2 separate regions of the Homo sapiens genome follow, and region 2 is linked to region 1. Evidence: fine-mapped expression QTL. Tissue or cell type: whole blood. Region 1 holds a variant in brackets; the other region holds the start of a gene. All regions are shown on one strand. Distances are from middle to middle.

Region 1 (16,145 bases):
AATCTCAGAAACTGGTAAATCCATCAAACAAAAGCAAATTAATGATAAAGAGGACTGGAATAATTCAATAAGCTTGATCAGGCAAGTAGACAAATAGACTTTAACTCGTATTCCCAACAAGCAGAACGATGGTGCATCGTTAGATTCTTAACACTGAAAAGTCTCTCTCTCTTTTCTTTTTTTGAGACAGGGGTCTTACTCTGTCTCCCAGGCTGGAGTACAGTGGTGCGATCTTGGCTCACTGCAACCTCTGCCTCCTGGGTTCAAGCGATTCTCATGCCTCAGCCTCCCAAGTGGCTGGGATTACAGGTGCCCACCACCACACCCAGCTAATTTTTGTATTTTTAGTAGAGATGAGATTTCATCATGTTGGTCAGGTTGGTCTCGAACTCTTGACCTCTAGTGATTGGCCCACCTCAGCCTCCCAAAGTGCTGGGATTACAGGCGTGAGCCACCACGCTCGGCCTGAAAAGTTTTTCTTGATATTATTATCCCTCAAATTGTGTCGACTTTCCTGATTCAAATTTCAAACACATATAGACTTAGAGAATCAGGGAAAGTCTGGTAGTTCATTAAATGCAACTCTGAATTAATGGGCAATCAAGAACAGAAAAATAACTAGAGTTAGATAGCTTATTTGAGAACGTAGATATAAAAAACTCTTTCCTTAAATATTATTTTGGAATCCACTGGGATATTTCACAAAAATAATAATCAATTCTGATTGGGTAGGCTTTATCCTGTGATGATGAGGACAAAGCACTGAATAATTTTATAATCTTGAGTACTGCCTACTGACTTTAAGATAAGTGAATTAAGTCAGACACAGATAGAAAATGATGCATTGACCTCACTTCTGTGTGGAATCTAAAAAAAGTCATATAGACTGGATGTAGGCTATTGGTATTTTTTTTCAAGCAAACAAAACATTAAAACACATTCTAAGGCTGCACGCAGTGGCTCACACCTGTAATCCCAGCACTTTGGGAGGCTAACGTGGGTAGGTCACCTGAGGTCAGGCATTCAAGACCAGTCTGGCCAACATGGCGAAACCCTGTCTCTACTAAAAATACAAAAATTAGCTGGGTATGGTGGCACCCACCTGTAATCTCAGCTACTCAGGAGGCTGAGGCAGGAGAATCGCTTGAACCTGGGAGGCGGTGGTTGCAGTGAGCTGAGATCGTGCCATTGCACTCCAGCCTGGGCAACAGAGTGAGACTCCATCTCAAAACACAAAAGAAAACAAAACCAAAAAAATCCCCACATTCTAGGACACACATGATTACCACGTGGAAGCACAGAGCAGAAAAGATGAAATTTTAAAATAACAAATTTTTAGGGAAGCTATAAATAATATAGATATTGCACTCTATTTTTTTTTTTTAGAGATGGGGTCTCACTGTGTTGCCCAGACTTGGAGTGCAGTGGTGCAATCATACTGCAGCCTCAACCTCCTGGGCTCAAGGGATCTTCCTGCCTCCGCCTCCCTAGTAGCTGGGACTATAGGTGTGTGCCACCACATCCAGCTATTTTTTTCTTTTAGTAGAGATGGGGGTCTCATTATGTTGCCAAGGCTGGTCTCTAACTCCTGGCCTCAAGCGATCCTCCTACCGTGGTCTCCCAACATGCTGGGATTACAGGTTTGAGCTACTGTGCCTGGCCCATAGAACCATTTCTGACCCGTTTATGTCTTCTTGGTCTACTTCCCATTGTAGAGGACCCGTGAGATGGATAATATGCCACCCAGGGAACACTAATCTGGAAATTCTGGTGCATTTGAGTTTCAGAGAATGAAATAGTGGAAGAGAAACTTGCAACTGCCAGGGTTTCTTGGGGGCAGGGATGTGGGAATATAAAGGAACAGGATGGGTGTGATGGCTGGTATAGGAGTCAAGGGTGGGTGTGTACTGAGTGACAAAGGTGGGAGACCTTACACTGAAGTGGAATGTTGATTTTCCACCATGGCAATTTCTTTTTTCTTTTTTTGAGATGGAGTCTTGCTCTGTCGCCCAGGCTGGAGTGCAATGGCGCGATCTTAGCTCACTGCAACCTCCACCTCTCAGATTCAAGTGATTCTCCTGCCTCAGCCTCCCGAGTAGCTGGGATTACAGGCACCCACCACTAAACCCAGCTAATTTTTTTGTATTTTTAGTGGAGTTGGGTTTCATTATGTTGGTCAGGCTGTTCTTGAACTCCTGACTTCAGGTGATCCACCTGTCTTGGTCTCCCAAAGTGCTGGGATTACAGGTGTGAGCCACCGTGCCCAGCCTCCATGATGGCAATTTCTGTATCAGTGAAACAGGAGGATTCCCTGAGCTCCCTTGCAGGACATGTGACAGGGGTGTGGCTCATCTGTTTGGCTGCTGGGTGCACTCAAACCCCTTATGGGACGGGGAGCACACAGACAGGCAGGTGCAGGAGCCGGGGCCAGTGTCCCTGGGCTCTGGCCCCATGGCAGCATCCACAGGTGGGAGACTGCAACTCCCAAAGCCCAAGTGGCTGTGTGTTACAGTGTGCTCCTTAGCCTTGCTGTCTGTGGATGGCTCAAGTGTTAACCAGCTCAGTGCCCTCTTGGTACCCAAGTCCTTGTCCAGCATCCAGGAAGAATCAGGTCACACATAGACTTGAAGGATGAATGCCAGGGTTTTGTTGAATGGGGGAGGTGGTTCTCAGTGGGATGGATGGGGAGCTAGAAGGGGGATGGAGTGGGAAGATGATCTTCCCCTGGAGTTTGGCTGTCCAGTGGCTAGTCTCCTCTCTGACTGTCCCCAGTTGAACTCCTTTCGGCATTCAGATGCTCCTTCTCTTCTCTCTGCTGTGTCGTTCTGCCATTCTTCTGCTTGTGGAGCCTGGGGTTTGAGGTTTATATGGGTATAGGATAGGGGAGCATGGTGGGCCAAAAGGTGACTTTGGGGCATGAAAACAGGATTGTCTGTTCCCATTTAGGGCCACAGGTCTCCAGGCTTGAGGGTGGGGCCTTTGCTGGGGAACCTCCCTCTTCTACCCAGTATTTCCCTGTCTCCTGTCCATATCATCAGTAATGTAGTTTGGATATGTGTCCCCACCAAATCTGATGTTGAATTGTAATCCCCAGTGTTGGAGGTGGAGCCTGGTAGGCGGTGCTTGGGTCATAGGGGCAGATCCTTCATGGTTTGATGCTGCCTTTGCAACAGGGAGTCTGTACTTGTGAGATCTGGTTAAGTGTGTGGCACCTTTGCTCCCCCCAACTCTCCCTTGCTCCTGCTCTGGCCATGTGACATGCTGGCCCTCTCTTGTGACATGCTGGCCCTCCCTTGGCCTTCACCATGATTGGAAGCTTCCTGAGACCTCTCCAGAAGCTGATCAGATGCTGACATCATGCTTCCTGTACAGCCTGCAGAACTGTGAGCCAATTAAACCTCTTTTCTTTAAAAATTACCCAGTCTCAGGTATTTCTTTTTTCTTTGTTTTTTTTTTTTTTTTTTTTTTTTTTTTTTTTGAGACAGGATCTCACTCTGTCATTCAGGGTGGAGTGCAGTGGTACAATCACAGTTCACTGCAGCCTCAACCTCCCAGGCTCAGGTGATACTCCCACCTCTGCCTCCTGGGTAGCTGGGACTACAGGCACGCACCACCATGCCTGGCTATTTTTAAAAATCTTTGTAGAGACAGCATTTTGCCATGTTTCCCAGGCTGGTCTCGAGCTCTTGGACTCAAGCAACCTGCCTGCCTAGGCCTCCCATAGTGCTAGGATTACAGGCGTGAGCCACCGAGCCTGGCCAGGTATTTTTTTTTTTTCTCTTGTTCTTTTTTTGAGACAGAGTCTCGCTCTGTCACTCAGGCTGGAGTGCAGTGGCGTGATCTTGGCTCACTGCAACCTCTGCTTCCTGGGTTCAAGTGATTCTCCTGTCTCAGCCTCCCAAGTAGCTGGCATTACAGGCGTGGACCACCATGCCTGGCTAATTATTGTATTTTTAGTAGAGACAGGGTTTCACCAAGTTGGCCAGGCTCCGGTCTTGAACTCCTGACCTCAAGTGATCCACCCGCCTGGGCCTCCCAAAGTGCTGGGATTATAGGTGTGAGCCACTGCGCCCGGCCAGGTATTTCTTTATCACAGTGCAAGAACAGCCTAATACAATCATTTTCACCAATTCTGGTGTTCCCAAGGGATGACATGGTGCGAAACCACAACACACAACTGAGAGTTGCCTTTGGGACTTCACGAAGGTGGAAGACTGTTCTCTTAGTCCAACATGAACCAGTCAGGGGTCACGTCAAGGAAGGCTCAGAGACTGTGTCCGACCAATATGGTTTATTTCTGCCCCAGCCAAGCTTCTTTGGACCCTGGCTGGGGGAAAGGCACCCCAGGCACCGGCAAGTTCCAGTCATTGCAGATCCTCCAGGTCTAGGTGTGACTGGTAGTAGCCTGGGCACTGTTGCTGGACGTTGTATTCTCCTTCCTTCTTCCGCCGGCGGGTGGTCACCTATGAGGGTGAGGAGGAGGCGTGAGAATGGACTGGTCAGCCGTCCAGGGAGAGGAGACCACAGGGGTGAGAATATGGCCAAAGCCAGAGGCCTTATGCTTCCTCTGTCTCCCTTCATTGTTTCATTTAATTTCTCCCTCAGTTCTTTTCCTCTTTTCACCACTTTCTTTTCTTCTGTCTCCTTGTTTCACTCTCGGTTTAAAAAAATTTTTCCCCCTCCGATATCCCCTTCATTTCTCTCTCCTTTTGCCTCTGAATTTCTTTATCAATATATCACATATCTACCAATGATCTATTTATCTATCATCTAGCTATCAATATTTATCAACCTGTCAATCAATTATCTACCAATCAATAACCATCAATTATCTCTCACCTCTCAATCATCTCCTATTTATAATCCATCAATCATCTATCAATCACCTGTCATCCATCAATCATGTATTTATCATCTACTTATCAATATCTATCAACTATCTGTTACCTATCAATTTATTATCTACCAATTATCTATCAAAATAATCTATTTATCATCTACCTATCAGCTATCCACCAATCATCTGTCAACTATCAATCATCTATCGCCTGTCTTCTGTCTAAATACCATTTCTCTCTCATCTCATTCTCAGTCTCTTTCTCTCTGGCTTTTGGTCCTGATCTCAGCCCCCTCTCTCCCTCCCTTCCTCCTCTACATCTGTCCAGCTTAACTGAGGCATAACTGACATAAAATAAACTGCACACATTTAAAGTGAATGTTTTGATAAGTTCTGATCATAACTTATTGAATCGTCACCACAATCAACATAAGGAACATCCATCCATCATCCCCAAAACTTTCGTCCTGGCCAGGCATGGTGGCTCACTCCTGTAATCCCAGCACTTTGGGAGGCCAAGGCGGGTGGATCACCTGAGGTCAGGAGTTCGAGACCAGCCTGGCCAACATGGTAAAACCCCGTCTCTACTAAAAATACAAAAATTAGCTGAGTGTGGTGGTGCGCATGTGTAATCCCAGCTACTTGGGAGGCTGGGGCAGGAAAAACGCTTGAACCCGAGAGGCAGAGGTTGCAATGAGCTGAGATCGTGCCATTGCACTCCAGCTTGGGCGATAGACTAAGACTCTGTCTCAAGAAAAAACAAAAAAAAAACAACAAAAAAACTTTCTTCCTGCTCTTTTACAATTCCTTTTTCCCTGCCACTGCAAACACATTTTCATTCCCAGGCAACCGCTGATCTGATTCCTGTCCTTACAGATTAGTTTGTATTTTCTAGAATTTGTCTATTAAGGGAATCATATGGCATGTACTCTTTTCTTCATCTGGATTCTTTCACTAGGCATAACTATTTTGCAATTTATACATGTTGCTGTATAATTTATTAATGTATTAATAATTCCTTTTTGTTGCTGAATAATATTCCATTGTCAGGATATATTTGTTAATGGACATTAGGGTTGTTTTCAGAGTTTGGCTATTACAAACAAAGCTGTTATGAACATTTACTTGTGTACAAGTCTTCATATAGACATATGTTTTTATTTCTCTTAGATAAATTACTAGTAGTGGGATGGTAGGGTCTTACGGTAGGTGTGTGTAATTTTCAAAGAAATGGCCAAGCTATTTTCCACTTTCACTTTATGAGAGTTCCAGTTCTGTCACATTTTCACCAACACTTGTTATAGTCAATCTTTTCAATTTTATCCATTCTTGTGAAAAGTGGCCTCTCATTGTGACTTCCGTGTACATTTCCCTAACGACTAATTTTGTTACATTTTTCCCTCTTACATTATTTTATTTACACTCTTTGCAATCACTTTTTCTCTCAATATCTTGTAATCAGCATATAGGTTGTGAAGTTTTTGAGATCTGCATAACATAGTAACTATAGTTAATAATAATGTAGATTTCAAAATTGCTAAGAGTATAGGTTGCCAATGTTCACACCACAAAGAAATAATAAGTATGAGAGGTGAGGGACATATTAATTAGCTTGATTGAGTCATTCCATAATTGTACATATACCAAAGCATCACATTGTATCCCCTAAATATATGCATTCATTATTTGTCAATTAATTAAAAATAAAATTATAAAAAGAAAATAGGAAAGCCACTCCGTGAACTGGGAGAAAATATTTGCAAAACATATATCCAGCAAAGGACTTGTGTATAGTATAGTATGGTTTTATAATATATTAAGAACTCTTACAACCCAATTGTTAAGAAGACAAGCAACCCTTCCTTGCTCACCAGGACACCGCAGATCAGGCATGTGATGACTCCCAGGAGTCCTGCCAAGCCGATGAGGATGACAGCCCAGAAGGGAAGGTCTGGGGAGACAAGGGCTGGGGTGAGCCACCTCCTGCCACGTCCCAGGGCTCCTTCTTGGACCCTATGTGGCCTGAGGATGGGCACAGCCCTGGGGAAGAGAGCTTAGTGGCTCAACACCTCATGCCTCTGATGCCCCCAAAAACTGGGCCCCCAGAAAGCCAGGATCCCTGCTATCCCTTTACTATGCCTCAATAGTCTTTGCCATGGGTTGGCAATTTTGATCCTCATCCAAGACTCTGTGTGCCTGGTGCTCTTGGACAAGGCAAAGCACCATCAGGCTACCCCCTCCCTACCCTGGGCTGGGGCTTCTTTGAGACTTACCAGAATTCCCAGTTAAGGGCTCATTTCTGTTGGGAGAATACCCTAGAAATGAAAGAAATGGAGGGTGCATGTGAGTGTGTCTTTTTTTTTTTTTTTTTCTGGAGATGGAGTCTTGCTCTGTTGCCCAGGCTAGAGTGCAGTGGCGTGATCTTGGCTCACTGCAACCTCTGCTTCCCGGGTTCAAGCAATTCTCCTGCTTCAGCCTCCCAAGTAGCTGAGATTACAGGTGCCCGCCAAAATGCCTGGCTAATTTTTGTATGTAGTGATGGAGTTTTACCATGTTGGCCAGGCTGGTCTTGAACTCCTGACCTCATGATCCACCCACCTCGGTCTCCCAAAGTGCTGGGATTACAGGCGTGAGCCACCGCGCCCGGCCAAGTGTGTCTTATTCTTTTAAATACAATTTTACAAGCGTACAAAAAAGCAGAGAGAAGAGTATAATAAATATGCATCACCTAGATTTAGTGGTTTATATTTCCTCCAACTAAAACATATACATCCAATTTATGATTTATTGACATTTCAGTGAAAGTAAATGTTTTCACTGAAGTTTTAGAGGCCAGTAGACACCATGACATCTCACCCCAAATATTTCAATTTGTATCTCTAAAAAAATGACACATGGCTACATAAGCCCAAAGCCATTATTCCACCACAAGAGTGTCATAAGTTAAATTCATGCCTCTGGGCATGGTGGACCTAAATTGGGCTGGGCCCAAGGGCAGTGGTGGAGAGAATGGATCATCGCAGTTGGAAACTGATGGGACCTCTCTAAGTTTTAAAATTTTCACCCAAAAGGTTTTTCTTCTGCCTAAAAACACATTTAAGCTCTCCTTCACTTGGTGGTTTTATCGTCATCTTTTAGAATTCACCTTCAATGTCATTTCCTCCAGGAAGCCTTCCCTGATGACCACACCCATGTATGAATAGGTTCACATCAAATAATTTATAATTGACAACTGCCTGTTCTTGTTATTCCTCACGACAGCATAAACTCCATGAAGACAGGGATGTAAAGCCATCATCAGGCATGGCGAGAAGGGTTACTGGTTCCTCTACTTCTACAACCCTGTTATAGCCAACTTTTTTTTTTTCTCAAGATAGAGTCTCACTCTGTCACCCAGGCTGGAGTGCAATGATGTGATCTCGTCTCACTGCAACCTCCGCCTCCTGGGTTCAAGTGATTCTCCTGCCTCAGCTTCCTGAGTAGCTGGGATTACAGGCGCACCACCATGCCTGGGTAATTTTTTGTATTTTTAGTAGAGGCAGGGTTTTACCATGTTGGCCAGGCTGGTTTTTAACTCCTGACCTCGTGATCCGCCTGCCTCGGCCTCCCAAAGTGCTGGGATTACAGGTGTGAGCCACTGCGCCCAGCCCATAGCCAGCTTCTTAAAGATGTAGAAGACATACCAATGGCTAACAAGCATATGAAAAAATGCTCGACATTACTAATAATCAGAGAAATACAGATTAAAACCATGATGAGATACCACCTTACGCCAGTCAGAATGGCTGTTACTAAAAAGACAAAAAATAACAGATGTTAAAAAGGATGCAAGAAAAGTGAACCGTTACACACTGTTGGTGGGAATGTAATTTAGTATAATCTCTATGAAAAACGTGGAGATTTCTCAAATAACTAAAAATGAAACTACCATTTGATCCAGGAATCCCACGACTGGGTATCTACACAAAGGAAAATAAATAATTTTGTCAAAAAGACACCTGAACCTGTGTGTTTATCACAAAACTATTCACAATAGCAAAGATATGGAATCAACCTAAGTGCCCATCAATGGAGGACTGTATAAAGAAAATGTGATCTCTCTCTCTCTCTACACACACACACACACACACACACACAATGCAATACCACCCAGGCATAAAAAAGAATGAAATCATGTCTTTTGCAGCAACATGGATGCAAGTGAAGGTCATTATCTTAAGTCAAACAACTCAGATACAGGAAGTCAAATAGCACATGTATTTGACTAAATAATGCATAGACATGTCAATGCTAAATAATGCATAGGCATGGACATAGAGAGTGGAATAATAGACAGTGGAAACTTGGAAGGGTTGGGGAGTGGAGGAGAGTGGATGATGAGAAATTACTCAATGGGTACAATGTACATTATTCAGGTAATAGATACCCTAAAAGCCCAGACTTCCCCACTGGGCTATAAATCCATGCAACAAAATTGTACTTGTGCCCCTTAAATATATACAAATAATAATTTTAAAAAGTAGTGTGCAATATGGAGCAGCCACAAGTGGCTTTTTAAATTAAAATTAAATAAAATTAAAACTTCGGTATCTCAGTTACATTAACCACACTTCAAGCTTAGTAATCACACATGGCTTTGTGCTGAATAGCACAGATAGAAACATTTTCTATCACTGCAGAAAGTTCTATTGGATGGTACTGATTCAAGGCAAGGTTTGGCAAACTACAGCGATGCTGGGTCCATGGCCTGTTTTTAGAAAGCTTGTGAGCTGACAACAATTTTAATTAAAAAAAAAATTGGGGCTGGGTGTGGTGGCTCACGCCTGTAATCCCAGCACTTTGGGAGGCCCAGGTGGGCAGATCACGAGGTCAGGAGA[T/C]CGAGACCATCCTGGTCAACATGGTGAAACCCTGTTTCTACTAAAAATACAAAAAAAATTAGCCAGACATGGTGGCAGGCGCCTGTAGTCCCAGCTACTCAGGAGGCTGAGGCAGGAAAATGGCATGAACCCAGGAGGCGGAGCTTGCAGTGGGCGGAGATCGTGCCACTGCACTCCAGCCTGGGTGACAGAGCGAGACTCTGTCTCAAAAAAAAAGAAAAAATAAAAACAAATAAAAAACAAAAACAAAACAAAACAATAACAACAAACAAACAACAAACAAAATTGGTAAAACAAGAAAAAGAAAAACCTGTGACAGGCATGTGAAAGGCTTGTTGATTCTGAAGGATCAACAGTGCTCTCTTGCACAACAATAATTCGGAATCAAGGACAGTGCACACAGGCATTGGAAGGTCCCGTCTAAAACGTTATTCGCATTTGACTTGAAAAGAACCTTGTATGAAATCTAGTTATTCCTTCTGCAAATATGACTTGAGTGTTTATTATGTGCCAGGCAGAATATGGGGTTCTTGGAATATAGTGGTGAAAGAGCAAACAGTTACTCTCTGTTATATTCCTGATACATGGTACAATGTATATAACTATTCTTTGAATGGGTAAAATTGGATATGCAAAGTTGAGCCACCTTGAAGCCATCTCTGGAGTTGGAAAATAGGTCCATCCTACCACATTTGTTGAGGATGAATCACATACAACTTGAAACTGGAAGCCCTCATTGACCTGCTGAGGCAGGAGGATCACTTGTGGCCAGGAATTAGAGACCAGTCTGGGCAACATAGTGAGACCCTGTCTCTACAAAAAATTTAGAAATTAGCAAGGCGTGGTGACACGTGCCTGTAGTTCCAGGTACTCAGGAGGCTGAGGTGGGAGGATCGCTTGAGCCCAGGAGTTCAAGACTGCAGTGAGCTATGATTGCACCACTGTACTCCATTCTGGTTAACAGAGCGAGACCCTGCCTCTAAAAGAAAAAAACAAACACAAAAAACCAGAACCAGCTGCAGTGGTGCCTGCCTGCCTGTAATCCCAGCACTTTGGGAGGCTGAAGCAGGTGGCATGCTTGAGCTCAGGAGTTCAAGACCAGCCTGGGCAATGTTGCAAAACCCCATCTCTAGAAAAAATACAAAAATTATCCGGGTGTGGTGGCGCATGGCTGTAGTCCCAGTTACTTGGGAGGCTGAAGTGGGTGGATTGCTTGAGTCCAGGGGTTGAGGTTGCAGTGAGCTGAGATCATGTCACTGCACTCCAGCCTAGGTGACAGAGTGAGACCCTGTCTCAAAAACAAACAAACAACACAACAACAATAACTAATCAGGGTAATTGTTTAACACTGCAGCTGCCTGGGGGTGGAGGAGCAATACCATCTAGGGCAGGCAAGATGGGAACCAAAAACCAAGTGGCTTGCTAAGTACAGAGAGATAAGAAGTCCAGAAAGGAGATGTGACTAGCCTGAGGTCACAGAGCTGGCCAGAAGAGGGCAAATGCCTCCCATATCCCTCGGGCGTCCTTTTCTTTCCTTCAATGATGGGTAAAGCTTAGGAGAACTAAGCCACTTTCTCCCAGTCTGAGAAAGCTCGATGACGAATCAACCCCAAGCCTTCAGATTCCCAGGGAAGGACCCAGGTGAGGAAGTGGGAGCTTCCACCTCAGTCCCAATGACCCAGGGAGCTTTACCATCCACAAGGACACTGCTCCTGTCCAGGGTGAAGTTCTGCAGCTGGGTACCATTCCGGGTCATCCGCAGAAATTCCTCATAGATGGCAACTCTGTCTACTCTCCGAGCCAGTGGCGAGAAGTTACACAGGGAGTCCACCCCGGTGTGGTGCCTGTTGGGGACAGACCTGGAAGGGGACAGGGATAAGCAAAGATATCTGCAATTTTATCATGATTCTAGGCTTTCTCCTTCTAGGCTCTTCCTGCAGAAACTTTCTGCAATGATGTAAACATTCTATGTCGGCCGGGCACAGTGGCTCACGCCTGTAATCCCAGCACTTTGGGAGGCCCAGGCAGGCGGATCATGAGGTCAGATCGAGACCATCCATACAAATCACGAGGTCAGGAGATTGAGACCATCCATACAAATATTAGCTGGGTGTGGTGGCACGTGCCTGTAATCCCAGCTACTTGGGAGGCTGAGGCAGGAGAATCACTTGAATCGGGGAGTAGAGATTGCAGTGAGACGAGATCACGCCACTGCACTCTAGCCTGGTGACAGAGCGAGACTCCATCTCAAAAACAAAACAAAAAACAAAAAAAAAATTCTACATCTGCACTACACAATGCAGCCATTAGTAGCTTCATGTTGTTATTAAATGCTTAAAATGCAGCTAGCGTGGGAGAAGAACTGAATTTCTAATTTTATTCCACTTAATTCATTTAAAAATAGCCACAGGGAGGTCAGGCACAGTGGCTCATGCCTGTTATCCCAGCACTTTGGGAGGCCAAGGCGGGTGGATCACTTGAGATCAGGAGTTCGAGACCAGCCTGGCCAACACAGTGAAACCCCATCTCTACTAAAAACACAAAAATTAGCCGGTGTGGTGGTGCACATCCATAATCCCAGCTACTTGGGAGGCTGAGGCAGGAGAATCGCTTGAACCTGGGAAGCGGAGGTTGCAGTGAGCTGAGATTGCGCCACTGCACTCCAGCCTGGGCAACAGAGGGAGACTCCGTCTCAAATAAATAAATAAATAAATAAATAAATAAATAAATAAAGTAATAGCCACAGGGAGAACATTTCTGGAATGTTGGGGTAACAACTTCTGAATACCCATAAAATCAATGAGAACATTGGCCAAAATAGTCCAAATCAATTTTTCCAGAAGTCTAGAAGTGAACCAAAGGCTTGCAAAAATTCGAGGGGTGTTTAGTTAAGGAAAGTGTTAAATCTCAGTAAAAAGAGCAAGCTTTGTGGCATTTTAACTTGCATTATTTCCACAGTGCTCTTTCAAGATCCTCAGTATTTTATTATTATTATTATTTGTTTTTTTTTTTTTGAGACAGGCTTTGGCTCTGTTGCCCAGGCTAGAGTGCATGGCACAATGTCAGCTCACTGCAACCTCTGCCTCCTGGGCTCAAGCCATCCTCCCACCTCAGCCTCCTAAGTAACTGGGACTACAGCACATGCCACTATGCTCAGCTGATTTTTGTATTTTTTGTAGAGATGGGTTTTCACCATATTGCCCAGGCTGGTCTCAAACTCCTGAGCTCAAGCGATCTACCCACCTTGGCCTCCCAAAGGGCTGGGATTACAGTCGCAAGCCACTGCATCCAGCAAGATCCTCGGTAACTTTGAAAACTGGCAGCCTCAGAATCATGATATCTGTGAAAACCAGCTGCCTAGCAGTCAAAATAGCTGTAGAGTTCTCCAGACATCAATCTGCAGAACATAGTCACTATTTGATCTGTTTGGCAGCTCCTTGAAAAAGCCCTATTCTCAGGGCTTATCTTTATTTGTTCTGATTCAGAATTTGTTTAGTGAGGAAAGCCTGTTCTCAAGGCAGTTGTCAAAAAAAAAAAATCATTGGTACCCCCCACCATTGGAAATGATACCTCTCATTGAAAAGCACAGTTAGGCTGCTAGATTCTAAGTAATCTGGTTTTAGTCCCCTCCTTCCCCCGTCTTCCATGGGTCCTGATTTCAGTAGCTGATGTCTTAATGTAGTAGATTCTACACTCTAGACTCCATGGCCTCAGCACCAGGTACCTTTATGTCTGCTGAGATTTACACCAGCTCTCTTGAGTGTTGAAGCCAGTTGGGCTCCAGCTTTAGGAAAAAGCTAGTTTTTAGTTAACAGCTCTCTATTTCTAGGGCTCTCTTCCATCAAAGCTATGGCTTGGGGACACTTCTATTTAAAGGACAGCAGAAGTTCCTAGAGTCATTAGGTCCTGAGTTAGAACTTACCTGAATGTTGAAACTTGACAGTCAGAAAAATAACTCTTGATGCTGCTGTTTCGGAAGAGTTGGTTGAGCTGAAAGACAGGGCGATGTTTCTTAGGTCAGAATCCTGGCCCCAGTAGCATCAGAGAATTTTCAGCCACTGAGCACACTTCTCCGTCTATTTTGCTTCTTGTCATGACAACCACTTGCCCAGGTATGTATATCAAAGGACATGCTCTTCTAGGGTATGACTTAGCTGTGTGACCTTGGGTCAGCTACTGAACCTCTCTGTGCTTGTGTATTAAATGGGAATAAGAACCTGTCTTTGTGGATTGTTATAAAAAGTCACCCTGTGGCTACCCAGTATGCATAAGTCAGTTTCTGCATGGCAACAGAGTGGACATACCACCCCCTTCTCACCGCATCCTCAATATTCCTTTTGTTCCTCTGGTAATTGGTGGTGCCTGGCTGGGCTTTGTCCTGGGAATATGGTAGGTTGGTGATGGTGAAATTCAGGTAGAAGTGCTGGGTGCTGGAGCTGCTTGTTGGTTGATAAACTGATGACTCCATTTCTAGAATTAAAAAAAAAGTATGTAAAAATCCACTATCAAGGCAGGGTTTTAAGAAAGAGATGATTCCAGCTAGCTTACTTATTCCTGACAGTGTGAGCTGAGCTAGGCTTTTCTTTTTTTCTTTTCTTTTTTTTTTTTTTTTTTTTTGGCAGGGGGGTCATTTGTTTTGTTTTTTGAGACAGTTTCACTCTCTTTGCCCAGGCTGGAGTGTAATGGCGTGATCTTGGCTCACCACAACCTCCACCTCCTGGGTGCAAGCCATTCTCCTGCCTCAGCCTCCCGAGTAGCGGGATTACAGGCATGCGCCACCCTGCCTGGCTAACTTTTTTTTTTTTTTGTATTTTTAATAGAGACAGGGTTTCTCCATGTTGGTCAGACTGGTCTCGAACCCCCGACCTCAGGTGATCCACCCGCCTTGGCCTCCCAAAGTGCTGGGATTACAGGTGTGAGCCACCGCGCCTGGCTGAGCTAGGATTTTAAAGGTGGGATGGAGGGTTTTAGGTAACAGCTCTATATTGGATGGAGGATCTTCCTCCATCCATCTGTCCAGCTTGTATCCATCCACCCATCTACCTGTTCAATTCTCTTTCTACCAAGCATTGTAAGAATTCTCTACAACATGGGGGAAAAGAGACTGGGTTTCTCTGGGGGTGTAGTCAGCAATTGCAGGTGCTGAGAAACCCAGAGTCTTCTAACTAATGATCATTGTTCCTAAAGGGTCTTCTTGCCTTTGCTCTTCTCTCCCCCCACCCTCCATTCTGCACACAGCACCCAGAGGATGAGCAGAATTCATTTCATTTTCTTTCTAAAGCAGAACTCATGAGTGTGTCATGTTCCTCCCCAAGCCATTCCAGTGCCCAACAAAGTCTCTGCCCACATCTTTGGCTTCAACTGTCACCTCTCCAGTATCAAAGTGGATGCTCCAGCTACACCAATCTTCTTAAACTTGCCCCAAAATGCCACTTTTTTTTTTTTTGAAATGCAGTTTTGCTCTTTTTGCCCAGGCTTGAGTGCAATGGCACAATCTCGGCTCACTGCAACCTCCGCCTCCCGAGTTCAAGCAGTTCTCCTCTCTCAGCCTCCCAAGTGGCTGGGATTACAGGCACGCACCACCATGCCTGGCTAATTTTTGTATTTTTAGCAGAGATGGGGTTTCATCATATTGGTCAGGCTGGTCTTGAACTCCTGACCTCAGGTGATCCACCCATCTCAGCCTCTGAAAGTGCTGGGACTACAGGCGTGAGCCACCGCACCCGGCCAGATGCCATATTCTTTCTATCTTCTAGGTTATAGATGCATGGAGCACAATTCTCCATCTATTACCCCTGGCTAGGTCCCATTCTCTGTCAGATCTCAGCTTCTTCACCCCTTCCTACATAAAACTTTCCAAGACAAGGTTGTGTGTTCCTCCTTGGGGCTCCCACAGGCCCCTGAAATTCCCTTATCATAGCAATGATCACACTGTGTTATCAGTACGTGTTTACTTCCATTGTTTATTTATTTTTTATTTTTATTTATTTATTTATTTTTGAGACAGAGTCTCCATCTGTCGCCCAGGCTGGAGTGCAGTGGCGCGATCTCGGCTCACTGCAAGCTCTGCCTCCCGGGTTCACGCCATTCTCCTGCCTCAGCCTCCCGAGTAGCTGCGACTACAGGTGGCCACCACCATGCCTGGCTAATTTTTTTTGTATTTTTAGTAGAGACAGGGTTTCACCGTGTTAGCCAGGATGGTCTCAATCTCCTGACCTCGTGATCTGCCTGCCTGGGCCTCCCAAAGTACTGGTATTACAGGCGTGAGCCACCATGCCCGGCCTACTTCCATTGTTTATTGAATGAATGAATTATTCATTTACTGATTCATTCATTTAATTGATCATTTTAATTGATCAATTAATCAATTAAATCAATTCTCAATTACATCAATTAATCAATTATGTACTGAATCATTTATTATTCATTAA
Region 2 (16,145 bases), 20 kb before region 1:
GATCATGAGGAGGAATCTACTTTCCTGTGTTGCTGCCAGCACTGCAACCTGTGCCCCACCCTTCTGCCTCCTCCCATCGCAGACAAGGAGCTGCCTGCCTTCTCCGCAGGGCTTGCTGGGCAGTTCTGGCCTGGGGTCCACCCTCCTGCTTTTGAGGAGCTGTCTGTGCTCGAAGCTCTCTCCTCCGCCCTTTCCCTTCTAGCTCTCCCGTGCTGCTAGACCCTTCCTCATGCCCCTCAAGCCTGATGTGGCATCTTCTGTAGTGCGATGAGCCCATCCTTGGGGTACAGCTTTCTTTCCGGTTACTGCCCCGTCTGTATCCCCCATCCCAGCCACAGCTCTTCACTCTGTCCCCTTTCCTGAGTCCTCACACGGTGCAATCTGGCTTCCCTACTATCATCCCAAGGACAATACCCTTGATGGAATCGACAATGACCTTACTCACCAGGGAGACGTGGATTGCAGCAACTCTGGCGCTATTTCCTATCTGGCAGGTCAACAGAGACACAGTGGCCCACACTCTTCATTCTCACACACTGCTGGGGGTAACCCCTAGGGAAGGAAACGTGCTGATGTCAAGCAAACCTGCAAAAAACATTTGTTCTTTCCTAGAACCCACTTCTAGAAATCTATCTCAAAGGTACACAAATACTGAAAGACACGTGTAAGATGATTCGCTGTGGCACTTCATATAATCGCAGAGGATTGAAAACACCACAAGTGACCATCAGTAGGGGATTGGGTGAATAAACTATGTGATAGCTTTAAGGTTGGTGCAAAAGTGATTGCGGTTTTTGCCATTACTTTCGATGGCAAAACCTGCAATTACTTTTGCAGCAACTTAATAAATAACAAAGAAACATGTAGCCAGGAAAAAAAAACCCCAAACCAAAACCAAAACAAAGAACCCCTGAAAAGATTTCTAGGTATTCAGAGAGATTATCTCCAATAAATTTAAGTGAAAAAAAAATCAAGGTACAAAGCAATGTCATGTGTCCTTTTTATAAGACGAGAAAGCCTCCTTTCTCCAGATTTATAGAATAAAACGTAACTCCATAAAGCCAGCTTCTGGAGGTTTCCATGTGTGACCTCCATGACATGAACCCAAAAGATAAAAGGAGTGAAGGGTGTGAATGGGCAGGGATGGGGGCACTGGACATTCAGGGTGAGTTCGGGTTCCGTCAAAAAATCAAGTTGGAGGGAGTCTTTGGCTCTTGGGCCTCTGTGGTAGACAGATGATTAACTTCCTGCTCTCCCAAGAAAGGGGTCTGTGTTCTAATCCCCAGAACCTCTGGATCTACTCCCTTACATGGCAAAAGGGATTCTGCAGCTGTGAGGAAGGCAAGGATCCTGACATGGGGGATGATGCTGGGTGGGCCCACTGTGATTACAGGGGTCCTTATAAAAGGGAAACAGGAGGGTCAGTTCAAAGAAGGATGGGATGAGATGAGAGAAGAAGGGAGCGTGTGTGTAGCAGGGAGGAGATAACATACAGAGAGACTGGAAGATGCTGCCCTGCTGGTGTTGATGATGGAGGAACAAGCCACAGTCAGGGAAGGCTGGTGGCCTCTACAAGATGAAAAACGCAGGAAATGGGTTCTCCCCTAGAGCCTCTAGAGCAGTGGTCCCCAACCTTTCTGGTACCAGGGACTGGTTTCGTGGAAGACAATTTTTCCATGGAGCACGGGGCGGCAGTGGGGCTGGGCAGGGAATGGTTTCAGGATGATGTTTTATAAGCACATTACATTTATTCTGCACTTTATTTCTATTATATTACACAGTAATATATAATGAAATAATTATACGACTCACCATAATATAGAGTCAGTGGGAGCCCTGAGCTTGTTTTCCTGCAACTAGATGGTCCCATCTGGGGGTGATGGGAGACAGCAACAGATCATCAGGAATTAGATTCTCCTAAGGAGTGTGCAATCCAGATCCCTCACATGCAAAGTTCACAATAGGGTTTGGGCTCCTATGAGAATCGAATGCTGCCACTGATCGGCCAGGAGGTGGAGCTCAGGTGGTAATGCGAGCAATGAGGAGTGGCTGTAAATACAGATGAAGCTTCGCTCACCTGCCACTCACATCTTGCTGTGCAGCCCTGTTTATAAGCACTGGTCCGTGGCCCAGGGGCTGGGGACTCCTGCTCTAGAGGGAATGCAGGCCTTCCAGCTTATTGAGGATTTCTGACCTCCAGCAAGGCAAGAGGATAAATGTGTGTTGTTTTAAGTCCCTGAATTTGTGGTAGTTTGTTATAGCATCAATAGGAAACTAACATGCCTTTCACATCACACCTTCCCTTTGGGTGAGTTCAGCAGACCCAGGCAACTGCTGCAGAACTTCCCTACCCTCTACAGGGGGAAGTATCTCCTTTTTCCCCGTAACAGACCTAATGTGCAGGTAGGCACACAGTAGTTCCAGTCACTGAGCTGGGGAGTGAGGGGGGGTTGGCCTCCAGCCAGCTCACTGGGCCTCCAAGAAAAAAACAAGTAGAGAAGGTACCTGGGACATTTTCAGGCCCCAAGTCCCTATTCAAGGCTGTCTGGAAGCAGAAATTTCCCACTAGGACAGGAGGGGTCTCTTCAGTTTACAGATCCTGTGACACCTGCCCTGCCCTGGATACAGTGCTGGAGGATGGTCACAGCAGATGGGCCACTCTATGTCAGCTGCCCAACACAACTTCTGGTGATGATGGAAATGTTCTATAATTCTGCTCTAATACTTGAAATGTGACTAGTATGGCTGAGAAAATAAATTTTATTTTTTTTGGGAGCAATCATCTGATTCCTAAACTACCTCCAAACACCCCCTCTTTTGCCTCTTAAATGTCTTCCTTCTGAATCCTGAAGTCCTTGTTATCTGCATGCTTACACTACATGCAAATTGCATCACCCTCTGGCCCACAACTCTTTAGTGTCTTCCCACTGGCCTGAGAACAGAGTCTGAAGTGAGGCCTAGTATGGTTCTGCCTCCCTCTTGATCTTGGTCTTGGTCACACTTCTTTCCCTATTCTTTTTTTTTTTTTTTTTTTTTTTTGAGGAGTCTCACTCTTACACCCAGGCTGAATGCAGTGGTGCAATCTCTGCTCACTGCAACCTCAGCCTCCCAGGTTCAAGCAATTCTCTTGTCTCAGCCTCCCGAGCAGCTGGGACTACAGGTGTGCACCACCACACCCAGCTAATTTTCGTATTTTTAGTAGAGACGGGGTTTCACCATGTTGGCCAGGCTGGTCTTGAACTTCTGACATCAGGTGATCAGCCCACCTTGGTCTCCTAAAGTGCTGGGATTACAGGTGTGAGCCACTGCGCCCAGCTTCTTTCCCTGTTCTTGTCTCGGCTTCAGCCATCCCTGTGTTCCCAGTGCAGGGAGCGTGGCAGCCTCTCTCCTGCTGCAGGGCCTTTCCTTACACAGCTTCTTCGACGGCAGTGCTCTCTTGGACATAACCCTGTCCCCTCACTCTAGTCGAGCCCTATGACTAGCTACATCTGACCCCAACTTGGAGATGGAGCAGCAATTCCCTTTTTCAGGGGCCTGTGAACCCCAAGTGGGAAAATAAAGGAAAATCCTGAAGTTCCTTTAAGGGAAATTCCGAGCATCCAGCTAGCCCCAAAAGTAAATATGGAACTTGTTAAACAGGAAGGTAATAGTAACCTAAAACAACAGCCAAAGAAGTTAAGGCTCCAGAGATGTTCGCTTTCCCCATGGAAACTAAAGATAACATCTTAACATGCGTCCCTGAGTTGCCTTTCAGAGGCTGGGACTCCCACTGAGGACCCCACCAAATGGAGCTGCTGGCTCAGAGACCCCAGATAAGCGGGACATGAAGGCTGAGCTTCAGCGTTCTTTGTGCTAAGTTTCTTCTTGAGGGGCTTGGAGAAAGTCACTTCTCCCAGCCAGTTAACATTTTCCTACTGACTCTAAATTTTTAAACAAAGCTTCTTTTCTTTAACCAATTACAAATCAGAAAAATCTTTGAATCTACCTATGACAAGCTCCTGCTTCAAGACATCCTTGCCCTTTTAAGTCTAAACCAGTGTGTAACCTCCATGTATTGCTTTATGATTTTGCCTGTAGCTTCTGCTTTTCTGTAACTTACCATTGCCTTCAGAAATCCTTGCCTAGCCGGGCACGGTGGCTCATGTCTGTAATCCCAGCACTTTGGGAGGCCTAGGCAGGCGGATCACCTGAGGTCAGGAGTTTGAGGCCAACCTGGCTAACATGGTGAAACTCTGTCTCTACTCAAAATACAAAAAATTTGCCAGGTGTGGTGGTATGTGCCTGTAATCCTAGGGACTGGGGAGGCTGAGGCAGGAAAATCACTTGAACCTGGGAGGCAGACGTTGCAGTGAGCTGAGATCGTGCCATTGCACTCCAGCCTGGGTGACCAAGTGAGATTCTGTCTCATTAAAAAAAAAAAAAAGGCCGGGTGTGGTGGCTCATGCCTGTATCATCTCAGCACTTTGGGAGGCTGAGGCGGGTGGATCACGAAGTCAGGAGATTAAGACCAGCCGGGCCAACATGGTGAAACCCCGTCTCTACTGAAAATACAAAAATTAACCGGGCATGGTGGTAGGCGCCTGTAATCCCAGCTACTCAGGAGGCTGCGGCAGAACTGCTTGAACCCGGGAGGCCGGGGGTTGCAGTGAGCTGAGATTGCAACACAGTACTCCAGCCTGGGTAACAGAGTGAGACTCCATCTCAAAAAAAAAAAAATTCCTTGCCTAAAAGCCACTGGGGAGGCCAGGATTTGAACATTTAATGTCTGGTCCTCCTTGCTTAGTGCTGTGCAATAAAAGCCTTTCTATCTATCGTAGCAACCCTCAATATAGACATCTGGTTTCACTGCACCACCAGGTGAGCAGACCCCAGTTTGGTTCTGTAACAACTTAAGCTCTCAAGCTAAATATCCTTCCCAAGAAAGCTTCCCTGTTCCCTCTGATCAAGTTCACTAGTGCCAAGCTCCCACATCACTCCTGTCATTCATGGTTTAAAATTTATCTTCCCTGTTAGAAGGTAAACTTTATGTAGGACAGGGGCCATTTCAGGTCCTCCAGGGTCCCTGTGCATCTGACCTAGGACCTGACTCATGGAGGCGACCTGGTTTGCCAAGGATTGTCCCGGTTTGAACACTGGATGCCCTGTGCCCTAGCAAACCCCTTGGTCCTGAAAAAATGAGGATGGTTGGTCACCATTAACTGTGCACTCAAATAATATCTATTGCATGATAAGTAAACATTCCTTCAAGAATGCTGTAGGAAAGCTAGAATGGAAAAGGTGAACACACACACAATTAGTAGAAACCCCACAATTTAATACTAGATTACTTAACATGATTCTCTGCAATATGAATCACCATACTGTTATTTCAGAGAAGTTTTAAGAAACAAAGTTAATTCCTATTAGGAGGTGATATCGTTGGCTCTGTGTCCCCCCACCCAAATCTCATCTCGAGTTGTAATAATCCCTATGTGTCAGAGGAGGGTCCTGGTAGGAGGTGACTGAATCATGGGGGCGGACTTCCCCCTTGCTGTTCTCCTGATAGTAAGTTCCCACAAGATCTGATGGTTTAGAAGTTTGGCGTTTATGTCTTCTCTCTCTCTCCTGCTGCCATGTAAGACGTGCCTTGCTTTCCCTTTGCTTTCTGCCATGATCGTAAGTTTCCTGAGGCCTCCCCCGCCATGCAGAACTGAGTCAATTAAACTTCTTTCCTTTGTAAGTCACTCAGTCTCAGGGAGTTATTTATAGCAGTGTGAAAACTCTCAGGTAGTTCTTTATAGCAGTGTGAAAAAGGACTAATACAGGAGGCAAGGTGCAGAGGACAATCTTTTTGGAAACCAGTTCCCTACCCTTCAATCTATAAGTTGTTGCTTAATATTCTTCCAAATGTTTTCAAATCTCATTAGGAAAAAAAAAATCCCATTACTCAAAACACATCTGGTCGCCGGTCAATTTAATTTTAAATTTGTTACTAATAAATCATCCTTTTTACAAATGCCCTTATATTTTGAAGTTTGGTGGAGGGCCAATATGCCTTTAGAAATCAAATCAACAGCTGGGTGCGGTGGCTCTTGCCTGTAATCCCAGCACTTTGGGAGGCTGAGGTGGGCGGACCACTTGAGGTCAGGAGTTAAAGACCAGCCTGGCCAACATGGCAAAAACCTGTCTCTACTAAAAATACAAACAAAATTAGCTGGGCGTGGTGGCACTTGCCTGTAGTCCCAGCTACTCAGGAAACTGAGGCAGGAGATTTGCTTGAGTCTGGGAGGTGGAGGTTGACATGAGCCAAGATCGCGCCACTGCACTCCAACCTGGCCAACAGAGTGAGACTTGGTCTCAAGAAAAAAAAAAAAAGTCAAATCAAACAGGCCTGAAAAATGTTGCTAAGTAGTCCTGCTAGTTGTTAGTGGGAAGACTTGTAACACTACATATACATGTAAATATTTTCTATACTTATATAAAATTCAGAAACTTTTAGCATTACGGCATACCAGAAAATCTGTCTTTAGCTACAGTTACACATCTTTACGTTATTTGTATGTTTGTTTTGTGGATACTTATTTGCATGTAACTGTATTTACTTATTTACACACATGTAACCATAAACACCTCTGTCTTTTTACCTTGAACTTTCCTTAAGATACCTTCACTCTTAGTGACTTCAATGTGGTTACAACCCCAGCACAGGAAAAGCCCACGAGGAGTTCTTCTACACAGCAGAGCCTGCTGAAACCTTGTTGTAGGTTCCACACTGTACTCACCTGGTCACCCAAAAACCCACAACAACAGGTGGACCTTGTGGCAGGCTTCAACACGAATCTGAGCTTGAATGATGCTTTTCTCATCTGAAAAAAAAAAAAAGACACAAAGATTTCTTTCGAGGCTTTGTATAGGTTGTACAGTTGTTGGATACGGCTGCCGGAAACACCATCCCATTCACTTTTTTTGGGTACTCAATGATTAAATGTGTAATAAGGGCCCAGCCTGTGGGCCATGACTGGCTTTACCTGATTCCCATCTGGCCATCTGCTCCGTAAGAGGGGAGAAAGCAGCTTAACGCTGTGTGCATTTGACTTGCTCAACTTACTACGCTGGAGAGAGATTCTATGGTGACTCCACAGGCTTTAAAAATATCTTGTCACTTAGAGGCCCTATTAAGTGACTAAACTGAATTTTTAACAATTTATGTAGTTTATTCAGAACTGCAGAGATTTTTTTTTTAAGGCCCTAGAGCAGGGTTTCCCAACCTGGCACTACTGATAATTCTTTGTTGTGGGGGACTGTCCTGTACAACGTAGGATCTTTAAGAGCAAGCAGCGTCCCTCTTCCCCGGCCTCCACCCTCTAGGTGACAGTAGCAGCCTCCCCTCCCCACAATTTGTGAAAACCACAGTCGTCTCCAGCTACAGCCAAAAGTCCCCTGGGGTGCGGAATCGCCCCGGGTGAGGGCGACTGGGGTTCCCTGAGGAGGCAACAGCGGCGCGGGGCCCCGACCCAGGAGCAAGCAGCAGCTTCGTGCTGACCTAAGCTCACAGCCCGAGGCCTCATGAACCGAAACACGGCTCCCTGGAGGGACGCAGGGCCCGTGGCTGGCGGTGTCCGCGGCCCACGTCGCCCCCTGGACTCGGACCCGAGCCCCCGCCAGTCGCTCACCGAGCCCGGCCCCTCCCGCGGGGCCAAAAGCGCCGACTCGCGGGGACGGAGGGACTCGCTCCCCGCTGCCCCACGCGCGGCCCCTCCCACGGTACCGCCCCGCGCTTCCGCTTCCGGTCTGGGGAGAGGTGCGCTGCACGTCCCCTTCCGGCTCGCGCGGGCAGCCTCGCAGAGTCGAGCGTGTTGGGGGTTCGGCGCTTAGGCGACAGGCGCGGCGGGCGGGAGCGGCGGCCGCGAACCCCAGCCTTGGGCAGAGGTGTTCTAGTTTGCTTAGTGGGCACAAAGTTGGGCCCTGGCCTGGGGCAGTAGCGGGGGTAAGGTTGGCCCTGGGGGCGGGGCCAGGCTGTGAGCCGCACGAGGCCTGGGGGCGGGGCTGGTTGTGGGCGGAGATCAGTTCCGGGGCGGGGCTGAAGGCGGGGAACCGGCTGAGGCCGTACCAGGCCTGGAGGGCGAGGCTGATTGGGCAGAGACCAGTTCCAGGGTCGGGGCTGTGGGTGGGGCCCAGTTCTCGGGGCGGATGGTATAAGGCTTCTAGAGCGGGGATGACTGAGCAGAGACCAGTTACAGGGGTGGAGACCTCCATTTCCGGGGCGGGGCTGAGCGGGAACCAGGCTGTGGTTGTGACAGCCCTGGAGGTTGGGGCTGGCTGTGGGCGGAGATAAGCTCCGGGCCGGGCGGAGGGCGGGGACTAGGCTGTGGGTGTACCGGTCTTGGAGGGCAGTGGTGATTGGCAGAGAGCAGTTCTAGGGGCGGAGCTATGGGGTGGCAGCAAGCCTGGGGGCGGGGCTGACTGTGGGCGGAGACCAGTTCTGGGGGCGGGACTGTGGGCTGCACCAGGCCTGGGGAGGGGGCAGTGGGTGGAGACCAGTTCCAGGGGCAGGGATCTGGGTATGAATAAAAGGGTGTATGATGTGGGTGGGTTGGGATAGGCCCAGGAGCCAGGATTGTGGGAGATCAGATTCAGGGGTAGGGCCTTCCTTGGATCCCTAGATTGTTGATACAGTTACTGCCCCATGTTCATACAACCCAATAGGATCAGATTATGTATGCACATTTGTCTATAACTTGCTTTCCCAAGGCAGAACATAGTGATTTAACACTAAGAGTTTAGGGGAGCAGGAGAGGACTGGGTCATAGATACACATATAGGAAAACTTAAGAATGGTACAAAGTCAGTCAAATATTCTCCCACCACGGTCTTTCAGTTCTTTTGCTCAGAGGCAAAAATAATTTTCTCCTCTATCTTTCCAGATATAGTGTGGACATGTATGTGTGTGTATGTGTGTATGCCGTAGTCATATTCATGGAATAAATGCTATTACCTCCCCCCCAACAAGTCTCTGTTTTATACACCATGGATATAGACTGAACAAAATAGGTAAACGTCCTTGCCCTCAGAGAACGTGCATTTTAGTTGTGAGTTGGGCAGGAGAAATGGACAGTGAATGTGATAAATAGAATACATGGTGGGTTGGTGCGTTAGATACCACTAAGTGCTGGTTGGACCTGGTGGCTTACGCTTGTAATCCCAACACTTTGGGAGGCCGAGGCAGGCAGATCACCTGAGGTCAGGAGTTCGAGACCAGCCTGCCAACATGGTGAAACCCCGTCTCTACTAAAAATACAAAATTAGCCGGGCGTGGTGGCGGATGCCTTGTAATCCCAGGTACTTGGGAGGCTGAGGCAGGAGAATAGCTTGAACTCGGGAGGTGGAGGTTGAAGTGAGCCGAGATTGCAGCCGGTGCACTCCAGCCCGGGTGACGAGCAAGACTCCATCTCAAAAAACAAAACAAAACAAAAACCAAAAACCATAAACAAAAAAAGATACTGGTAAGTGCAAAGGGAAAAAATTTTATGTAAGAGAGTGGTAACATTTAAAATCAGCCAGGAAGAAATACTTTCAATGAATGATATTGTTTCATGCACCCGTCCTTTCAGAAAAAAATAGTTAGATCTCTGCTTCCCAAAAATATCCATTTTCAGGTGGCTGAAGGAAGTTTAAGCAAAAATGAACAAGTTCAAAATTCAATATACTAGGAAAGTTCACTGTGGAAAGACTGTTCTCTTCAACAAATTGTGCTGGGACAACTAGATGCCAATATACAAAAGAATGAAATTGGGCTGGGCGTGGTGGCTCACGCCTGTAACCCCAGCACTTTGGGAGGCTGAGGCAGGCAGATCACGAGGTCAAGATATCGAGACCATCCTGGCTAACATGGTGAAACCCCGTCTCTACTAAAAATACCAAAATTAGCTGGGCGTGGTGGCGGGCGCCTATAGTCCCAGCTACTCGGGAGACTGAGGCAGAAGAATCGTTTGAACCCAGGAGGTGGAGATTGCAGTGAGCCGAGATCACCCCACTGCACTCCAGCCTGAGAACAGAGCGAGACTCCATCAAAAAAAAAAAACAAACCAAAACCAAAAAAAAACAAAAAAAAAACCAACCAACCAAGAAACAAACAAAAAACAGAGAATGAAATTGGACCTCTACTTCACACCATGTACAAAAGTGAGCTCAAAATAGATCATAGACCTAAAGGTAAGAGCTAAAACTATAAACTTCTTGGAAGAAAACATAGGTGTCAAACTTTGTGATCTTGGGTTAGGCAATTGTTTCTTAGATATGACATCAAAAACAGGTGGCGAAAGAAAAAATATATAAATTGGACTTAACATTAAAAAACATTGATGCTTCAAAGGACACCATCAAGAAAAAAGACAAACATGGACTGGGTGAAGACATTTACAAATGATTTATCTGATACATGACTTGTATTCAAAATATATAAAGGCTTGCGACTCAGCAATAAAAAGATACCCAATTAAAAGTGAACAAAGAGTTTTTTTTTTTTTTTCTTTTTGAGGTGGAGTCTCCTTCTGTCACCTAGGCTGGAGTGCTGTGGCACCATTTTGGCTCACTGCATCCTCTGCCTCCTGGATTCAAGCGATTCTCCTGCCTCAGCCTCCCAAGTAGCTGGGACCACAGGCGTTCACCACCACGCCTGGCTAATTTTTGTATTTTTAGCAGAGAGAGGGTTTTGCCATGTTGGCCAGGCTGGTCTTGAACTCCTGACCTCAAGTGATCTGCCCACCTTGGCCTCCCTAAGTGCTGGGATTACAGGTGTGAGCCACTGCACCCAGCCTGAAAAATGAACAAAGAGTTCGAATCGTCATTTCTACAAAGAAGATACACAAATGGCAAATATATACATGAAAAGATGCTCGGCCCCATTAATCATTAGGGAAGTTAATATCAAAACTTCAATAAAATACTACTTCACACCCATTGGGATAATTAAAATTAAAAAGATAGCCAATAACAAAGATTGGCAAAGACAAGGAGAAATTGGAATTCTTATACATTGCTGTCAGGATTGTAAAATGGTGCACCCACTTTGCAAAATAGTTTGGCAGTTCCTCAAAAAGTCATAGAGTTGCCACGTGACCCAGCAATTTTATTTCCAGTATATGCCCAAGAGAAATGAAAACATGTGTTCACATGACAGCTTGTACATGAATGTTCATAGCAGCATTATACATAATAGCCCAAAATTTTGTATGTCCCAAATATCAGTCAACTGATGAATGGATAAATAAAATGTGGTATATCCACACAACGGATTATTATTCATCCATTAAACAGAATACATATTCCATGGATGAACCTTGAAAACATTACGGTAAGTAAAAGAAGCCACTCATAAAAAACCCACATTTTGTATAATTCAATTTAAATAAAATTTCCAGAATAAGAAAATCCAAAGAGACAATAGATTAGTGGCAAATGTTGGGGAAAAGGGAAATGAGGGGAAGTGGGTAATGGTATGGATTTCATTTTAGATGAAAATAAGATTAGATAGTGGTGACGATTGCGCAACTGTGTGAATGTACTAAAAACCATTTTACACAAAAGTGTAAAAACTGTACACTTTAAAAGGTTGAATATTATGGTAGCTCAATAAAGTTTTTATTTAAAAAATGTAGAATTATACACATAAATTCTTCAGTTAGGCATAATAAGAGAATAAAAGTGGAAAAATAAAATACTACATAAATATGAGTGCTTCTTCCTCAAAATAATAGAAGAAAAGTGGAAAAAGTAAAATACTACAAAAATGTGAGTTCTTCTCTTCTTCCTCTTCCTCCTCCTCCTTTCTTCCTTCTTCCTTACTCCTCCCCTTCCTCCTCCTCCTTGTCCTCCTCCTTCTTCTTTCTTCTTTCCTCCTCCTCCTTCTTCTCTTCCTTTTCCTCCTCCTCCCCCCCTCTCCTCCTCCTTCTTTCTTCTTTTTTCTTTTTTTTTGGAGACAGGATCTTGCTTTGTCACCCAGGCTGGAGTGCAGTGGTGCAAACATGGCTCATTGCAGCCTCGACCTCCTGGGCTCAAGTCATTCTCCCTCCTCAGCTTCCCGAGTAGCTGGGACTGCAGGCGTGCACCACCACGCCCAGCTAGTTTTTGTATTTTTTATAGAGACAGGGACTCGCCACACCACAGAGGCTAGTCTCGAACTCCTGAGCGCAAGCAATCCCTTTGCCTTGGCTGCCCAAAGTGCTGGGATTTTAGGCATGACCCCATCGTATCCAGCTTAAGTGTATCTTAATTTTCCACACCATCACATTATTAAATGGCAAAACAAACTGGGGATAAATAATTGTAAAAATCTATGACATGTGGGCTCATATCATTATTACATAAAGAATATTTTGGATAAATAAGCAAAAGATGAACAAGCCAGTAAAAACATCATCAAAGACAAAGGCTATGAACCACACACTCCTTTACAAATACATACAACTGCCCAATACTCTAATTAGCAAAGAGGCATAAATTAAAATAATGGCATTATGTTTGTGCCTCTCAAGTAATGCAAAACATTTTAAATGGCCAGTTTGTCAAGACATGAAGAAATGAATGACCTCGCCCTCTGCTAGCAGCATTGATAAGTACCAGTTTCTCAGCAGGTACTTGGTAACATATACCCAAAGCTGTACGAATGTGCATATTTATCAACCCAGCAATTTTACAGTGATCTAAATCAGAGAAATGTTTGAACCTTGTTAAAAAGGATTGATCATCTACCTCCTATTTAATATGACAGAAGATTAGTAACAATGGCAAAATAAGTACTGGTGTAGCCGTATGAAATGACATTCATGGGCCTTAAAACAACAATGTCAATGTACATTTAGTTATATTAAATTACAATCGGGATATATTGTTAGATGTGAGAAGCTGGCTGCAGAATGAAGTCGGCAGTGTGTATCCATGTTGTAACCCACAAAGTCTAGGAATATAAAATTCCAGGGCTCGACAACCACTTAATGCCTGGACCCTTTCTGCCTCGAATGGGGGTGGCTAGAAACTTCTCTGGCTGGAGGGCAGAAGGCAGAGTGCAAAGTTTTGCCTCAAGCCTTGTGACAGGGATAAAGACCCTCACCCTTCACACTGGCCTCATGGACAAGACAAGTTCTTGCTTTCCCACAGAGTACCTGAGATCTGAGGATACTTTATACTCTGATAGTCACTTCCGGCTACCTTAATTCTGCTAGAGTAAAAACAACTAGTAGCTTCCACCTAACCAGATGACGCATAAAATAATTGCTACTAAATATTTCATTCCATATTTTGGTTAGTAAGGAAGAGAAGGAGGTAAAGAAACTTGAAGTGAAACAACTGGAAGGGACCAAGATGGAGCAGGCAGAGTTCCTTATACACAGGAGACAGCAAGGCTGAAATTCTACCCAGAAGATCAGCAGCCCTGGCCAGGCACGGTGGCTCACGCCTGTAATCCCAGCACTTTGGGAGGCCGAGGCGGGCGGATCATGACATCAAGAGATTGAGACCATCCTGGATAACATGGTGAAACCCCGTCTCTACTAAAAATACAAAAAATAAGCTGGGCGTGGTGGTGCACACCTGTAGTCCCAGCTACTCAGGAGGCTGAGGCAGGAGAATCGCTTGAACCCAGGAGGCAGAGGTTGCAGTGAGCCGAGATCGCATCACTGCACTGCACTCCAGCCTGGACGACAGAGCAAGACTCCATCTCAAAAAAAAAAAAAAAAAAAAAAAAAAAAAAAGATCAGCAGCCCCACTATCACCTTCCTCCAGGGCAAGGCCACCTGTGGAAATGACAGATGTCAAATAATCCCCAAAGGAATTGCTAAGGATGGAGATGTCCCATGGAAACAAACTGCATATTGCCTAACCCTCTCCCGAGGACATGGATATATTGAGATAGTAAATGTTTTGAAGGCTATGCAACTCTGCAAACAACCAAGCATGCACAGAACACAGGCTGTCTGGTGATAACTCCTAGATAAGCACCAATATAGCACCTCAGCCACAGATGGCATGCCACACACAATGAATTCTAAAAGTCTATTTTAACCTGCGATGGCCAACATATTCTCATGTGTGCATGCAATCAATGTAAAAATTATTGAGACGTTTTAGGTGCGACTGGCTGGGGCTGGCATTGTTGGTGGTAAAATAATTTCCCAAGACAGTCGTAGGTAAAGAAAGACAGATTTATTAGAGAAGATATGAAGATAGGTTGCAAGGATGCAACAGGCAGCACAGAAGAGAAGGGGCCATTTGCAAAGAGGCAGAGGTTGGAGGGGATTTTATAGGGTCGTGCTGGAGGCGGCTATGTGCACGTGAGGTGTGCAGATAAGGTCGTGTTCCTGGGACTATGTGCAGACCGAGGTCTTTTGGAACAGAATGTCATGCCAGTGGGTTGTTTGCAGTTAGCCATCTCTCAGAACAATTGTTCTCCCCCAACCAGGGGCCCTTTCCTTGTTGTTGGTTACTTATCTTATTAGGACTCCACATGAGACCTTTTAAATGATTTTTGTTTTTTGTAATGAGTTCCAGAAATCCAGTTCGTACTTTCCACTGATGGCACATCTCAATTTGCGAGTTGAATGTTATCAGATGTACTTGCCCCGTATTTAGATTTTCTTTTTTTTCTTTTCTTTTCTTTTTTTTTTTTTTTTTGAGACAGAGTCTCGCACTGTCGCCCAGGCTGGAGTGCAGTGGCGCCATCTCGGCTCACTGCAAGCTCCGCCTCCCAGGTTCACGCCATTCTCCTGCCTCAGCCTCCTGAGTAGCTGGGATACAGGTGTGTGCCACCACACCCACCTGTATTAATATTATGGCTAATATTTTGTATTTTTAGTAGAGATGGGGTTTCACTGTGTTAGCTAGGATGGTCTCAATCTCCTGACCTCATGATCTGCCCGCCTCGGCCTCCCAAAGTGCTGGGATTACAGGTGTGAGCCACCGTGCCTGGCCATATTTAGATTTTCTAGGGTTCACAGCTGTAAAGTAAGATTCACATGTCCAGGTTGTTCCAAGCATACTTCAAAGCTTTCCACTTCAAGAGTCATGTCAGATGAATAATGAGAATTCCTTTGGGATCTAACAACAAAGGGGTCATTGTGGCCTTAGCAACAGAAGCAGCTGAGAACGGTGAAGGAAAACAGAAGTTTGGGGTGGCCTGAGGAGTTGCTGGAGGTGAGGAGATAGGAGACATAGATGTAGATGATCTTTTCTCAGTGGTTCATAGCTAAGGGGAAGGGATAGGCAGTAGTGGTGAAGGAGGGGGTCCCAGGAAGTTTAGGAGAGGAGTGTCTGTGTAGCTCGGAGAAACTTGAACATGTTTAAATGCCGAAGAAGGGATTCAGTAGAAAAACAGAAGTTAAAGATATGGGGGCATCTGTAATCCCAGCACTTTGGGAGGTTGAGGCGGGCAGATCATGAGGTCAGGAGTTCGAGGCCACTCTGGCCAACATGGCGAAACCCCATCGCTACTAAAAATACCAAAAAATTAGCTGGACATAGAGGTATGTGCCTGTAATCCCAGCTACTTGGGAGGCTGAGGCAAGATAATTGCTTGAACCCGGGCAGTGGAGGTTGCAGTGAGCCCAGATCATCCCACTGTACTCCAGTCTGGGCTATAGAGCGGGACTCCGTCTCAAAAAAAAAAAAAAAACAAAAACAGATGATACAAAGGTTACATTGCAATATTGGAAGCATAAAATTAACAAAAAGGAAGAAGGAATGAGGCTCAGATCACTCTTGGTGGATAAAGGAAACATATTTATGTATTTATGAGACAAGGTCTTGCTCTGTTGCCAAGGCTAGAGTACAGTGGCCTGATTGCCGCTCACTGCAACCTCGACCTCCTGGGCTCAAGCTATCCTCTTCACTCGGCCTCCCTCACTCAGCTGGGACCTCAGACATGTATCATCACCCCCAGCTAACTTTTTAATTTTTAGTAGAGATGGGGGTCCCCCTACGTTGCCCTGACTGGTCTCAAACTCCTGTGTTCAAGTGGCCCTCCCGCCTCAGCCTACCAAAGTGCTGGGATTAGATGTGTGAGCCACCATGCCTGGCAGGAAATCTCTTTAAATACAATTAAAGGAAATTTGGAAACATTCAATGCTTATCAGGGATATTTGCAGATTTGGCAACTAACGTCTTTGGGAACCATC

The links. PIP is the estimated chance that this variant, and not a neighbour inherited with it, causes the effect.
Region 2: it holds the start of ZNF558, and the variant in region 1 is fine-mapped to the expression of ZNF558 in whole blood (TOPMed, PIP above 0.99).

The regions. Positions count from the first base shown.
Region 1 is chr19:8,844,568-8,860,712 of GRCh38, forward strand. It overlaps MUC16 (mucin 16, cell surface associated), which reads right to left. Exons shown (of 94, transcript NM_001414686.1): 89 at 14,033-14,184; 90 at 13,637-13,704; 91 at 11,407-11,573; 92 at 7,111-7,152; 93 at 6,709-6,788; 94 at 4,277-4,463. The coding sequence ends at 4,365. Among named protein-coding and RNA genes, the nearest start is that of MBD3L1, 20 kb to the left of the region's middle. The variant T/C (reference allele first, on the strand shown) is at 9,715.
Region 2 is chr19:8,824,557-8,840,701 of GRCh38, forward strand. It overlaps ZNF558 (zinc finger protein 558), which reads right to left and starts at 7,748. Exons shown (of 10, transcript NM_144693.3): 1 at 7,653-7,748; 2 at 6,762-6,845; 3 at 446-552. It overlaps MBD3L1 (methyl-CpG binding domain protein 3 like 1), which reads left to right and starts at 7,821. Exons shown (of 3, transcript NM_001393532.1): 1 at 7,821-7,966. RefSeq lists silencers at 7,528-7,797, 8,298-8,557.